Homo sapiens: one gene and its partner. The protein of the gene in region 1 purifies or fractionates together with the protein of each later gene. This does not show direct contact. Each region holds a gene or a part of one and is shown on either strand. Other genes may lie near its edges.

What was found.
Region 2: the proteins of HP1BP3 (region 1) and DDI2 purify together in Homo sapiens (affinity purification with mass spectrometry; 2 studies listed by BioGRID and IntAct, with this or other methods). This does not show direct contact.

What each region holds. Positions count from the first base shown.
Region 1 is NC_000001.11:20,742,308-20,749,307, reverse strand, and holds part of HP1BP3 (heterochromatin protein 1-binding protein 3), read left to right. Parts: intron 1-1,652; coding exon 1,653-1,764; intron 1,765-3,651; coding exon 3,652-3,765; intron 3,766-4,216; coding exon 4,217-4,511; 3' UTR 4,512-7,000. UniProt on the Homo sapiens protein: Component of heterochromatin that maintains heterochromatin integrity during G1/S progression and regulates the duration of G1 phase to critically influence cell proliferative capacity.
Region 2 is NC_000001.11:15,613,608-15,620,488, reverse strand, and holds the start of DDI2 (protein DDI1 homolog 2), read right to left. Parts: upstream 3,032-6,881; 5' UTR 2,819-3,031; coding exon 2,681-2,818; intron 1-2,680. UniProt on the Homo sapiens protein: Aspartic protease that mediates the cleavage of NFE2L1/NRF1 at 'Leu-104', thereby promoting release of NFE2L1/NRF1 from the endoplasmic reticulum membrane.

The DNA of each region.
Region 1 (7,000 bases):
ACTACTGACTGAAAACCAAGAGGGAACAGCTTTACAAATTTCATATTTACAAAAAGAAAAACAAATAATCAAAACTGAATTCTTAATTTAAAGCATCTGCTTATAAGAAGTTGCTTTTACTGTAAAGATTTTTCTGATATTTATTGTAATTTAGATAAATCTCTAGGTTCAAAGCAACTCTAAATTATAGTGTATTTTTTCCTACTTTTGAATGTTCACCAAAAACATCTAATTTTACTTTGAAACAAAGCCAGGATTTTAGAGTACTTACTACTTATATTATTTCTTATTAACCTAAGCCCCACAACAGACAATACTTTATTTCAGTAAAGTATATTTACTCTAGGAGGTGGTGATTTGAGATGAGACACCCTGCCTTATCAGCATTATCGTGTGGATTGGTGAGACTGGGTGACTTCTCAATGAACTATTAGAAGAGGCACAATGTTGTAGGGTGAGGGATATGGAAATTAAGTAACAGAAGAAGACAATCCAGAATATATTATTGTAATTAAAAGGTAATTTTGAAGTCTTTTTTTTTTTTTAGACGGAGTCTCGCTGTGTTGCCCAGGCTGGGGGGCGCAGTGGTGCGATCTTGGCTCACTGCAAGCTCCGCCTCCCCTGGGTTCACGCCATTCTCCTACCTCCACCCCCTGAGTAGCTGGGACTACAGGCACCTGCCACCACCCCTGGCTAATTTTTTTGTTTTTGTATTATTTGTTTTTAGTAGAGACAGGGTTTCACCGTATTAGCCAAGATGATCTCAATCTCCTTACCTCGTGATCTGCCGGCCTCGGCCTCCCAAAGTGCTGGGATTACAGGCGTGAGCCGCCACGCCCGGCCTATTTCTATATGCCAGATGTTTTAAGAGAAGATGAATTTGGTTAACAAGCCTTTCAGTTTCACTGATATTTGCAGCTGTTTTTTGGATACTGAATCACCATAAAATATATTTTGGATATGTCTCTGTAAGAAAGATGAGAATGAAGGACTTCAGGAACCATGATATTGTTTTGTTACTGTTTACTGATTTATGAATAATTAGTTCTGTTCATCTTTATAAGAGATTCTCCTAGATGATTATCAATACCTATAGGTACACAATAGATGTTTAAGTGAATGGAAATAATTAAATACTTAGTTTTAGGTCTGCTGTTTATGTGCTACCTTAGAGCAAGTCACTTAACTACTTTGAGCTCAAGTCACTTAACCACTCTGGGCTTTTTTTTTTTCCCTGTGAAATAAGGTATTTGACTCAATGGTCTCTAATGTGTCTTTTCATTATAACTCTTGCCAGGTATGGTGGCTCATGCCTGGAGTCCCAGCAGTCTGGGAAGCCAAGGTGGGAGTATTGCTTGAGCCCAGGAGTTTGAGACCAGCCTGGGCAACATAGTGAGACTTTGTCTCTATATTTTGCAAAATTTTAAAATATAGATATATGTATGTATGTATGTATATAATTTAACTCTTGCCAAACTTATGGGCAATAAGTAAATGTTTAATTAAATACCTTTGAACACATAGGATTCACTTAGTGTATGTCAATTACCGTATGTGACAGGATATTAAATTGATGGGCATCTGTTTGTGGTTGAGGGAATTATCTAATCTGAATAACTAGATAACTTTCATTTCTGAATTTTTTTTTTCAGTGCATTTGCTGAAAAAAACCCTGCAGAAATGCGAAAAGAATGGGTGGATGGAACAGATCTCTGGGAAAGGGTTCAGTGGCACCTTCCAGCTCTGTTTTCCCTATTATCCCAGGTAAGTACTTAGCCTATAATAGATCACTGTAAATTTATAGTCTAAGTTACACACTCAGTTTAATTTATTTTACCCTTATTACTGTTTTAGTGAACTGGAAATACAGTCGTCCTTTGTTACATATAGGGGATTGGTTACAGAACTGCCCGCATACCCAAATGCGCATGTACTCAGCCCTGTGGAATCCATGTATCTGAAAAGTCTGTCCTCTTTGTATGCAGGCTTCGCATCCTGTGGATGTTGTATTTCTGATCTGTGTCTGGTTGAAAAAAAAAAGTCCACATATAAAGTGGGCTAATGCGTTGCCAACCTGTGTTGTTCAAGGGACAACTGTATTTGAAAATAAAGATGACTTTTAAGGCAGTATTATTTTGGAGTAAAAGGTTTTGTATAAAAATAGTGATTTTAGCCAGGCATAAGATTATTTGAGATCCTCGGATGGTCATTTTGATGTTCATTCCTTCTTTATCAAGTAAATGATAATGACAGATTCTTAGAGGATTATGTATAAGTTTTTGTTTTTGTTTTTTGAGACAGGGTCTCACTCTATCGCCCAGGCTGGAGCAGTGGTATAATCTCGGCTCACTGCAATCTCCGCCTCCTGGGCTCAAGTGATCCTCCCACCTCAATATCCCACGTAGCTGGGACTACAGGTGCGCGCCACCACACCCAGCTAATTTTTGTGTTTTTTGTAGAGATGGGGGTCTTACCATATTATCTAGGCTGGCCTTGAACTCCTGGCTCAAGCAGTCCTCTCGCCTCAGCCTCCCAAAGTGATGGGATTATATGCATAAGTTTTAATTGTCCAATACCAAGTGGGGAGAACATTGACTGTTTTCAAGAATCTTAACTCTACCTCCATACTGTAGAGACAGGAACACTTATCTGAAAATTTGTTTCTTGCAAATACCTTATTTATTCTTTGAAACAAAAAAATATATTGATCACCTCCTGTGGTCCAAGCATTGTTTCATGCACTGGGTTTAAAGCCTTTTGATTTCCAGTAAAGTACATAACATATACCACTAAGACCCTGTTTTAGCAAGACTATTGTGTAACTTTCTTATATTATTATTTCTGTACAAACATAAGTGTTACTTGGCTTAATACATATTATATAAATTTTTCGAACATTAAACATTAAATTTAATTCCCAAAGTCACACACACACAAAATGTTACATTCTGCCAGGTGTGGTGGGATGCACCTGTAGTCCTAACTACTTGGGAAGGTGAGGTGGGAGGATCCCTTGAGCCTAGGAGTTTGATTCCAGCCTGGGCAGCATAGCAAGACCCTGTGTCTGAAAAAGGCAAGAAACACACACACACACACACACACACACACACACACACACACATATATGTATGTATGTTATCATTTAAGGATATGTTAATCAAAGGAATCAAGGTTCATACCACCAAGGACAAAAAAGAGTTTAGGAGATCCTTGCCGAATACCTTTGAAGCTTTGAACAGATTTAGGCCTTTGAGGTCTTTTTTTTTAAGACTTGGAGGTCTTTTGCCAGTATTATGAGGCTGAAGTGTGTATTCCATGCAGACTGTTCATTGCTGTGTACTCATTGGCTAATACAGTGCCAGATACATATTAGGAGTTTAAGTAATTGTTTACTAAATAAATGACTATGGATTAATTTTATTAAATAGTGGGTATAGAATTAGGTATGGTGCAGGACTTTTATAGATTTGGCATAACTTTATATGTATGTTCAAAATACGGTAAATTGTAACCTGATACGTGTAACCTAGCTTGACATTTTTGGGAAGGGTGGGAAGAAGTGGGATATGTCCAGGTAAGAGCATCTAGGTTCACATTATTTTTCTTGTTTTATATGGGACTTGTGTTTTAATCTAATTTTTCCCCGTATAGCCCAGGAGTTCTGTTTCCGAAGAAAGAGCCAGATGATTCTAGAGATGAGGATGAAGATGAAGATGAGTCATCAGAAGAAGACTCTGAGGATGAAGAGCCGCCACCTAAGAGAAGGTGTGGACATGTGAAAACCCCTTGTGGGGAGGACACTAAATACCTCAGAGCTGAAAAATAGTGCTATAGGAGGGGCTAAAGCTAAAAAGCATTTCAGAAACTCAGGATCCTTCTCAAGTTCTTTATATAAATTTGGATTGATCTTCTCCTTTGAAAATCAAGGGCTCCAGACTTTTAGGGCAAGCCTGTGTGTATCCATAGTTTAGTTATTCAAAGAAAAATAATTACATATTTCCCTAGGAACAACGTCATGAAATTGTGTCTAGACTTCATGAATTGGTTGAATTTTTATACAATTTTAGTAAAATCTCTAGTAAAAAATTGTCACATTCCTATTCTTAACGTAAGTGACCACTTCATATGCCGTTTCTCTTTAGAAAGCATCTGGTTGTCCCAACAAAACGAATCTCTTAAGTACTAAATGACGGCCTTTGCTCTTTGGTTCTCACAGGTTGCAGAAGAAAACCCCAGCCAAGTCCCCAGGGAAGGCCGCATCTGTGAAGCAGAGAGGGTCCAAACCTGCACCTAAAGTCTCAGCTGCCCAGCGGGGGAAAGCTAGGCCCTTGCCTAAGAAAGCACCTCCTAAGGCCAAAACGCCTGCCAAGAAGACCAGACCCTCATCCACAGTCATCAAGAAACCTAGTGGTGGCTCCTCAAAGAAGCCTGCAACCAGTGCAAGAAAGGAAGTAAAATTGCCGGGCAAGGGCAAATCCACCATGAAGAAGTCTTTCAGAGTGAAAAAGTAAATTTTATAGGAAAAAAGGGTATCATGATGAAATTCAAAATCTTATTTTCTAAGGTCAGTGTGCATTTGTTTAGTTTTGATGCTTTTCAAATTACATTATTTTCCTCCCCTATGAACATTGTGGGGAGGGACTCTAAATAAACCAGTTTAGGCATTTGCTAGCTTTAGGTGCTTTTATTGGTGCCTGCCCTTTTCCTTGTTCATTTTAATTTCTGCAATAATCCTGGACTTTCCTAAACTATGTAATGTATACTTGTCCTTTTTCTCTGCCTCCCCCAACCCCCTGTTGTTTTTATGGTCAGCTTTGCCTTTTTTTTTTCTTCCAATTTTATCTAAACAGTTGCAGAGATTTTTATATTTGTAGAAAGCATCAAGAACGGTATGCCAGTCAGGTCCTGGAAGTAAAATGGAGGCACAATATAGCACTGACTGAGTTGTAAAGCCTCCTGCCTGGAGACTTCAGTTATAGCTGTAATAATTAATCTTATTTATAAAAGCCACTCCACTAACCTTTTCTCTCCAACTGTAAACACAGAGACAGCTTTGGGAATAAGCCAAAAACAGGGTGATCTCATTAGATTTTGAAGATATATGACTCCTTTGGGCTACATTTCATATTGATCAATTTCTAGGTATTTTTCACTGGCCCAAAGTATTGCATTCCCTTAACAGCAAGCACAAGTTCTCTATATCACTTGTTTTTTGTTGTTGTTGTTGTTGTCGTCGTTGTTTTGAGACGGAGTCTTGCTCAGGTGCCCCGGAGTGCAGTGGTGCAATCTCAGCTCACTGCAACCTCCACCTCCTGGGTTCAAGCAATTCTCCTGCTTCAGCCTCCCGAGTAGCTGGGATTACAGGTGTGTACCACCACGCCTGGCAATTTTTTTGTATTTTTAGTAGAGATGGGGTTTCGCCGTGTTGGTCAGGCTGGTCTCGAACTCCTGACCTCAGGTGATCCGCCTGCCTCGGCCTCCCAAAGTGCTGGGATTACAGGAGTGAGCCACTGTGCCTGGCCTATCCCACTTGGTTTTTGACTGAAGGGGAAGTGTAGAAATATATTGATTTGTGATTTCTGGTGTCACCTGTGTTACCAAAAATCAAAACAAATCTTTTTTATTTTTTATTATTATTATTATTTTTGAGACAGAGTCTCGCTCTGTCGCCCAGTGTGGAGTGCAGTGGTGTGATCTTGGCTCACTGCAAACTCCGCCTCCCAGGTTCAAGCGATTCTCCCACCTCAGCCTCCTGAGTTGGGTCCTACAGGCGCACACGACCACGCCCAGCTAATTTTTTGTATTTTTAGTAGAGTTGGGGTTTCACCATGTTAGCCAGGATGGTCTCGATCTCCTGACCTCGTGATCCACTCACCTCAGCCTCCCAAAATCCTGGGGTTACAGATGTGAGCTACCACTCACGGCCCAAATCTTCTTGATCATATGTTTAAATATATTTTTTAATATTTGGAGCATGAGTTGTCACTTCTTGTTTGCCTTTTTTATAAGGAAATGTTGGAGAGTTACATCATTGCTAATGTAGAAATGTTAAGTGGAAAAATATACAGTTTGGTAAAATAAACTAGATTCTACATTTATTTGTGGGTTTTTTTCCCCTCCTTTCTTTCCACAGCACTTTTGATATCAAGCAAGTGGCTTCCTTTTTGAGATATTAAAAAAAAAAAGAAAAGGAAAAAAGTAAATGAAGCCCAACTACCTAACCCTTTCTTATTTGTATTTGTTTTAGTATTGTGAAGTTGTGTTAAATAGTACTAGCTAGAAATACAAATTTCTGGTTATCATTTCTCTTCCCTGTGGCACTTGACATTTTAATTGTCTTAAAGTTTTTGAAGTACATCTTCTGGCCCCTTGAGTACTGCCAGAGGCAAAAGATGTTTGTTTCTTATTCATTCCACTTTTGTCTCCTGGGATCCCTTCTGTAGCCTAAAGTATGGCTGGGAAATGGACTTGAGAAGATTGGCTTGAATTAGATCATAATCATGTGTGATCCCATCATGAATTCATTGGAATTTGTGTTGCATGTAAGGCAATCTTTCCTGTTGTAAATCTTCCTTTTTTAATGTACATATATTTTGAAAAATATGAATAAACATGAAATTTTAAAAGCTGCTGAACCGTAGCTTATATTTAAAGGTTTTGAGTATAGTATATCCTCAGAAGTAGCTAAGTGTCGCCCTCACTTTAAGTCTTTTCTACTCCTTGAAATGAACACCATCATTTTCCTTTTTAAATACAAGCTCCAGTTCATGTGTTTTGGAATTCTTATAGAGGGTAAACGATGTTTCCAGATACATTGAATGCTAATTACTTAATGAATCAAAGGTTTAAAAAATCATTTTGTATTTTATTAAAGACTGCTTCCAAGATCATAGAGTACAATCATGTTCAATAAATGTTCAATATTCAGATAAGTCCTTGGACTAGAAAAAATTACAGTACTGCAAAAGATAACAGATAAATCCTAGACATCAAATTCTAG
Region 2 (6,881 bases), 5.1 Mb from region 1:
AGTCTAGGAAAGGAAGGGAAGATGAGTAATATGAGAGAACCCTGGGAGGTAATGGGGGGGGACACTCAAGTAAGTAAACATGATATATTTATGGGTAAAAACTATAGTGATGTTTACTATTATGATTTGATGAAAGGAAATGACTCAAGTGTCTAGGGTGGATCCTGTTCCTGCCTGATGGGCAAGCAAGCAAGTGAAAGACAACCGACCACCAGACACCTTAAAATAGATACTGTGTTGTCAGGTTACAATGGAGCCAACAGAACAGACTGGAAAAACAGGAGCTGTTTATGGCTATCTAATACAGGCTTAACACCAGTTGGAGCCCAAGTTTCTATATGCTAATTTGGCTTGGGAAGGAAGTAAATGCCGAAACATTGACATAATGAACAAGAAATAATTTGGAGTTAGCCTATGTTCAATTACTAAGGTATTCCTAACTTTACCAACTGGCAGAGGGCAATGTCTGGCTGACCACACAATAAATCGTCTTTTATGATGGCTGTAACAAGAAATTTAAGTCAATTAAAGGGGGTGTCAGGTATCCCTTTGACTTAAATTTCTTGTTTCAGCCATCACAAAAAGTGCAGGAATGGAAACAACCTCAACCTCTGTCTTTTCCCAAGCCCTAACAACAAAATCAATTTACATTTTAATTTCTTATTTTCCCTACCAGCCGGTGATCATAACCAGGGTAATATAACAGCTAGAGGAAAAAACAATTGAAAAAGCCACTATCGGGCCGGGTGCGGTGGCTCACAGCACTTTGGAAGGCCGAGGCGGGCAGACCACGAGGTCAGGAGATCGAGACCATCCTGGCTAACATGGTGAAACCCCTTCTCTACTAAAAATACAAAAAATGAGTCGGGCGCGGTGGTGGGCGCCTGTAGTCCCAGCTACTCGGGAGGCTGAGGCAGGAGAATGGCACGAACCCGGGAGGTGGAGCTTGCAGTAAGCCGAGATCGCGCCACTGCACTCCAGCCTAGGCGACAGAGACTCCGTCTCGAAAAAAAAAAAAGAAAAGAAAAGAAAAGAAAAAGCCACTATCAAAAATTGAAGAGTTGTCCGGGAACGGTGGCTCACACCTGTAATCGCAGCATTTTGGGAGGCCGAGGCGGGCAGATCACTAGAGGTCAGGAGTTTGAAATCAGCCTGGTCAACATGGTGAAACCCCGTCTCTACTAAAAAAAAATTACAAAAATTAGCCAGGCGTGGTGGCGCGCGCCCGTAGTCCCAGTTACTCAGGAGGCTGAGGCAGGAGAATCGCTTGAACCCGGGAGACTGGGGTTGCAGTGAGTCGAGAACGCACCACTGCACTCCAGCATGGGCGACAGAGCAAGACTCCGTCTCAAAAACAAAAACAAAAAAAGAAAAAAAATTGAAGAGTTTATTTTCTCTATTTAAACAGTCCTTTCCTAGTTCTCCACATGAGGCATTCACTGACAGAACTGGTTCCTGAGCTTTTGTGGATTAACTTTTTAAATTCTTTCTGAACAGCTTTATGCCAAGGTTCTAAAGTTCACATTGTGTAAAGGAATCATACTTCTGAACAAAGTATTGACACGTGTTTACCATAAGACAGCAGAACAAGCTGCAGTTGGGCAATCGTTTTGTAAACTATTTCATAACTGCAGTAGAAAATCAAGATTTACTTGATGGAGACTTGGGAGACCTCTATAATTTTCTTAATGTTTAGACTATTTCCTCCAGGCTAAATTTATTAAGTCATGATCTAAGTGTTTTAGTGTAAAGTTTACAGCGTTAGTGTCACCGATTCTGTTTGATAAAGACTAGGGGCAGCCCCAAAGCATTTTGAGAATTACTTTGCTTAGTTAAAATATGAGAGGCTGAACTTCTTTCCAGCAAGCTGAGTAGGGAAATGAAACCACCAAACAGCACTGATACTAGGCCGTTTCCAAGCAAATATCCTTTTAAAGCATTGAGCTTTGAACTGACCCAAACTCTGAACTGTGACCTGAAAGAAAAAGGGCCTTCTGGCTTACTACCAGGGTAGAACCGAAACAAACAAACAGCTTGAGTTGAACCAATAGGTACTGTTTTTCAAAAGAATTTAACCAGAAACGCATGTGGTGGGTAAAGAGCATTTCCAAAGACCCCAAAATGAGGTAGTGCAAGTCTTAAACTTTTTCTTTCACCGGAAGTGCAAATCTGTGCATTTAAAGGTAAACTGCGTATATTTAAGCAGAAACCCTCTCCAGAAAAAAAAAAAAAAAAAAGCAGAGGAACATCTATCTACCACAGTGATCCAAACTGGTATTTCTGGTTTGCAGGATGTATGAATCCTAGCAAACCCAGGGCTGCTTCTGAGGTCCACAACGATATCCTACACTCGGGATTAGAAACAGGGAAGGGCCAAAGAGCCAAAGGTGGGGAGGGTTAGCGCTGCTCAACAGTCCACGCGCCCCTCACGCTGCAGTGGGTGCGTCTGCGGTCAGGTTCTCCGCTCCCTCTCCTCGTACCCCACCCCATGCTCGGAGTGTGTGAGGGCAGCTACTGATGCCAGCTCCCCAGCTCCTTTCCGGATGCGGGGGTGACCTGAGAATGGCTATCCTTGCTCCCCCCAGCCCCCAATTCTTCACCAGTAGCAAAGGGAGGGAGTGAGGCCCCGAGGCGGGGAGGGCTTAGCTCCGGGGCAGGCCCGGCTCGCTGCCCGGCGTACCTGGCTCTCGGCTGCGGGGATGCCAGACTCGAGCTCGCACAGCGCGCGGAAGTTGTGCAGCTCGAAGTCGGCGTCGACCTGGAGGGAAAAGGTCACCTCGGAGAGGTCCCTCCGCACACAGTACACGGTGAGCAGCATGGCCCGGGCCCGACCCGGCTCGGCTCGGCTCGGCCCGGCCTGGGCGCGGGGCGCAGGGGAAGAGGCGGCGGCGTGGCCTGGCTGGTGCTGCGGGAGGACGGCGCCGGCTGCTCGTTCGCTCGCTCGCTCCCTCCCTCACACACGCTCAGTGAGTCACTCCCTCCCGCCCTCACTAGCAAGCACGGCCGCCGCCACACGCCTGCGAGTCCGTCTGCCTGCCGGCCTGCCTCCCACGGCTGCCGCCAAGCGCGCCGGCCGCCCGGCGCCCCGCCCCGCCGCAACGCGGCTGCCGTAAAGCCCGCCTCGCCTTCCCCGCCTTCGCAACGCAGCGGGGGGCGGGGCCGGGAAGAGGAGGAGGAAGCCAGGAGAGGATAGGAGGGGGAGGAGTGGGAAGGGGGCGTGGAAGAGGAGAGGGAGGAAGGGCAAGAAAAGGGGAGGGAAGGAAAGGAACGCGGAGAAGGAAATCTCTGCTGACTGGTTGACTTAATGACAGAAGTCTGTGGAGGAGTCCCCGGTCTTATTTATTCACCGAACAGGCATTGATTAAGCGCCTACCATGTGTCGGGCGCTGGCGATGCAGAAATGAATAAAAGGATAAATCCTTCTCCGTAACTCTCAATCTAGTACAGGAGTTAGTAATAAAACATATTTTTCGAGGTAGAAATTGAGGCTCCGACAGAGTAATTCACTTCCTGTCTTAGTGATTTAGGATTGAAACCAAAATCATTACCCTCCCTAGTCTACAGAAGCCAGTTGGCTGTGGCCCACGCCTACCTCCCCAGCCCCTTCTTCCGAGCTCTTCCCACATTCTCTGCCCTCCCAGCCACATAGGTCAGTTCCTCCAAGGCTCCATTCCCCTGTCTTGTAAATAATTTTCTCTCTACTTGGACTGTGTCTGTTTCCTAGCCCTAGCAACTCCTACCACCTAGCGCAGTGCCTTTTTGGGCACAGCTTAGAATCTACTCAATAAATATTTGCTACTTTAATGGCCTGTTTTTAAGGCACACAGCTGATGAGTGGTAGAGGCCCAGAACTAAGGTGCGGATGAGTAAGAAAACCAAAACTGAAAGATGAACTTGTAATGGATGCCAGATTAGCATCTTTCCATTTACTCCCACTCCCCCTCCATGGTAGGGAGCCCTTTTCCATTTTAACAGGAGAGAAGGAGCAAATAAGATGGCTGTGGGTGCAGGTAAGTAGGTAGTAAGTAGGCTGTTGGTGGCAGGAAAGGGAGAATTAGCAGCTGAAGGCTTTTACAAAGAGAAATTAGAGGAGCTGGGCGCGGTGGCTCACGCCTGTAATCCCAGCACTTTGGGAGGCCAAGGCGGGCGGATCACAAGGTCAGGAGTTCGAGACCAGCTTGGCCAATATGGTGAAACCCCGTCTCTACTAAAAATACAAAAATTAGCCGGGCATGGTGGCGGACACCTATAGTCCCAGCTACTCGGGAGGCTGAGGCAGGAGGGTCACTTGAACGCGGGAGGCGGAGGTTGTAGTGAGCCGAGATCAGGTCACTGCACTCTAGCCTGGGAGACAGAGCGAGACTCTGTCTCAAAAAAAAAAAAAAAAAAGAGAAAGTAGAGGCACAGGGGAGTGAGAATGCTTATATCCCCTAGGAGCAACAGAAAGCTTGACTATCAGTGGCTTAAACAAACAAGGGTTTGTTTTCTCACAGGAGAGAAGGCCTGGAGGTAGCAACAGCACTGGTTGAGTGGCTCACTGAAATCAGGGCCAATACTTTTGTAATTGTCTTGACCTTTTCCTGAGGGTTGCAATATATGGCTGGCTGCCTCCACTGCACGCATCATTTTCCTATTCAAGGAAAAAGCTTGCCCAGAAGTCCCTGTGCACATTTTTGCTTACATCTCACTGGACAGAATTGTGTCACATAGATGCAAGAGAGGCTAGGAACGCAAGTATTTAGCTTTGCCTAAAGGACATAAATAGGGAAAAGGGGGGCTGGGAATGGGTATTAGGAAAGATGTACACAGTGCCTTCTACAGTGAATGTTTGAAATAACCATTGCAAATTGAAGCAAGTTTAGCTGAGAAATGTTCTAGGATTGCCCAGTGGTGGTATCAAGGAATCAGTTGAGGCTTGAATCATTGATTAATTGTTATATTTGGTCTAGTGGTGCTCAGGTTCCCAGGTCTGGCAGATTTTGTTCTCCAAAGATGACCATGACAGTGCCTCCCATCGTCTATGCTCTTCCTACAACATGATTGGATAACCCTCCCATTAAGAAGTGGGGTGAATGTCCCTCCCTTTGAATCATGGCTCGGCAGACTAACTCTGGCATAAGTGACATTATGTGATTTCCTTTTTTTTTTTTTTTTTTATCAAGACAGGGTCTGGCTCTGTCACCCAGGCTGGAGTGCAGTGGCACGATCATGGCTCACTGCAGCCTCAACCTCCAGGGCTCAAGTGATCCCTCCAGCTCAACCTCCCCAGCAGCTGGAACTACAGGTGTGCACCACCACACGCAGCTAATTTCTTTTTAGTAGAGATGAGATCTTGCTATGTTGCCCAGGCTTGATTTCCTTTTTATTATGATTTTACATTATTTTTAGTTAAAAAAAATAGGGATGAGTCCTTGCTATGTTGACCAGGCTAATCTCCAAATCCTGGCCTCAAGTGATCCTCCCACCTTGGCCTCACGAAGTACTGGGATTACAGATGTGAGCCATCGCACCCAGCCACTTTGTGTGATTTTTAAGGCTAGGTCTCGCCTGTGTCCACCTGGAGCCAGCAGTTCTCACCCAGCATCCAGCAATATATGCCAGACACCAATGGAGGGGACAAAGCAATGGTGGACAGGCTCAGGCTGGGGCTGCTGCTTCTGGCACTGCTCCTACTTATGCAGATTTATTCAAATCAAACTATTGTAACGTTTTCAAGTAACTCCTCCCAGGGTACCTTGTCTGCCCCAAACCCAGCTAATGCCACCACCAAGGCAGTTGGCTGTGCCCTGCAGTCAACTGCCAGTCTCCTCATGGTCTTGCTTTCTCTTCTATATTTCTACTGTTAAGAAACATCTATACTTCCGTGTCTTCTAAACCCATTCCAAATGGCATCTAGGAGTCCAATGTGGCAAGAAAAAAAGCGGGTCTTCATCAAATCTATTAATTTCACACCTTCTTTTACTGATACAGAAAAGGTTGAGAACCTGGCCAGGTGTGGTGGCTCATGCCTGTAATCCCAACACATTGAGAGGTCGAGGCAGGTGGATCACCTGAGGTCAGGAGTTTGAGACCAGCCTGGCCAACATGGTGAAACCCCGTCTCTACTAAAAGTACAGAAAAATTACCCAGATATGGTGGTGGATGCCTGTAATCCCAGCTACTTGGGAGGCTGAGGCAGGAGAATTGGTTGAACCTGGGAGGCAGAGGTTGCAGTGAGCCGAGATTGCGCCATTGCACTCCAGCCTGGGCAACAAGAGCAAAACTCTGTCTCAAAAAAAAAAAAAAAAAAAAAAAAGGCCAGGCGCGGTAGCTCACATCTGTAATCCCAGCACTTTGGGAGGCCGAGGCAGGTGGCAGGTGGATCACAAGGTCAGGAGTTCAAGACCAGCCTGACCAACATGGTGAAACCCCGTCTCTACTAAAAATATAAAAATTAGCCAGACGTGGTGGTGTGTGCCTGTAATCCCAGCTACTCAGGAGGCTGAGGCAGGAGAATGGCTTGAACATGGGAGGCAGAGGGTGCAGTGAGCCGAGATCGCGCCATTGCACTCCAGCCTGGGCGACAGAGTGAGACTCCATCTCAAAAAAAAAAAAAAAGGAAAGAAAGAAAGAAAAGGTTGAGAACCCCAAATTTAATTGCTTTGAAGAACACGTGAAGGGTTTGACTAGATGATGGATGCCAATATTAAATCTGCTTAAATGTCATGTACAAGATGAAGAGAGGCAACATCCAAAATTGAAGACATTATTTCTTGAATGTGGCTTAAGAAATGTGGACAGTTAAAACTACCTTGAAAATAAGAATAGTAGATCCTGAGACAAAACTTGGGTAATAAAAAAAAAATAATAATAAATAATAGATTTTATCTTGTTTAGAAATA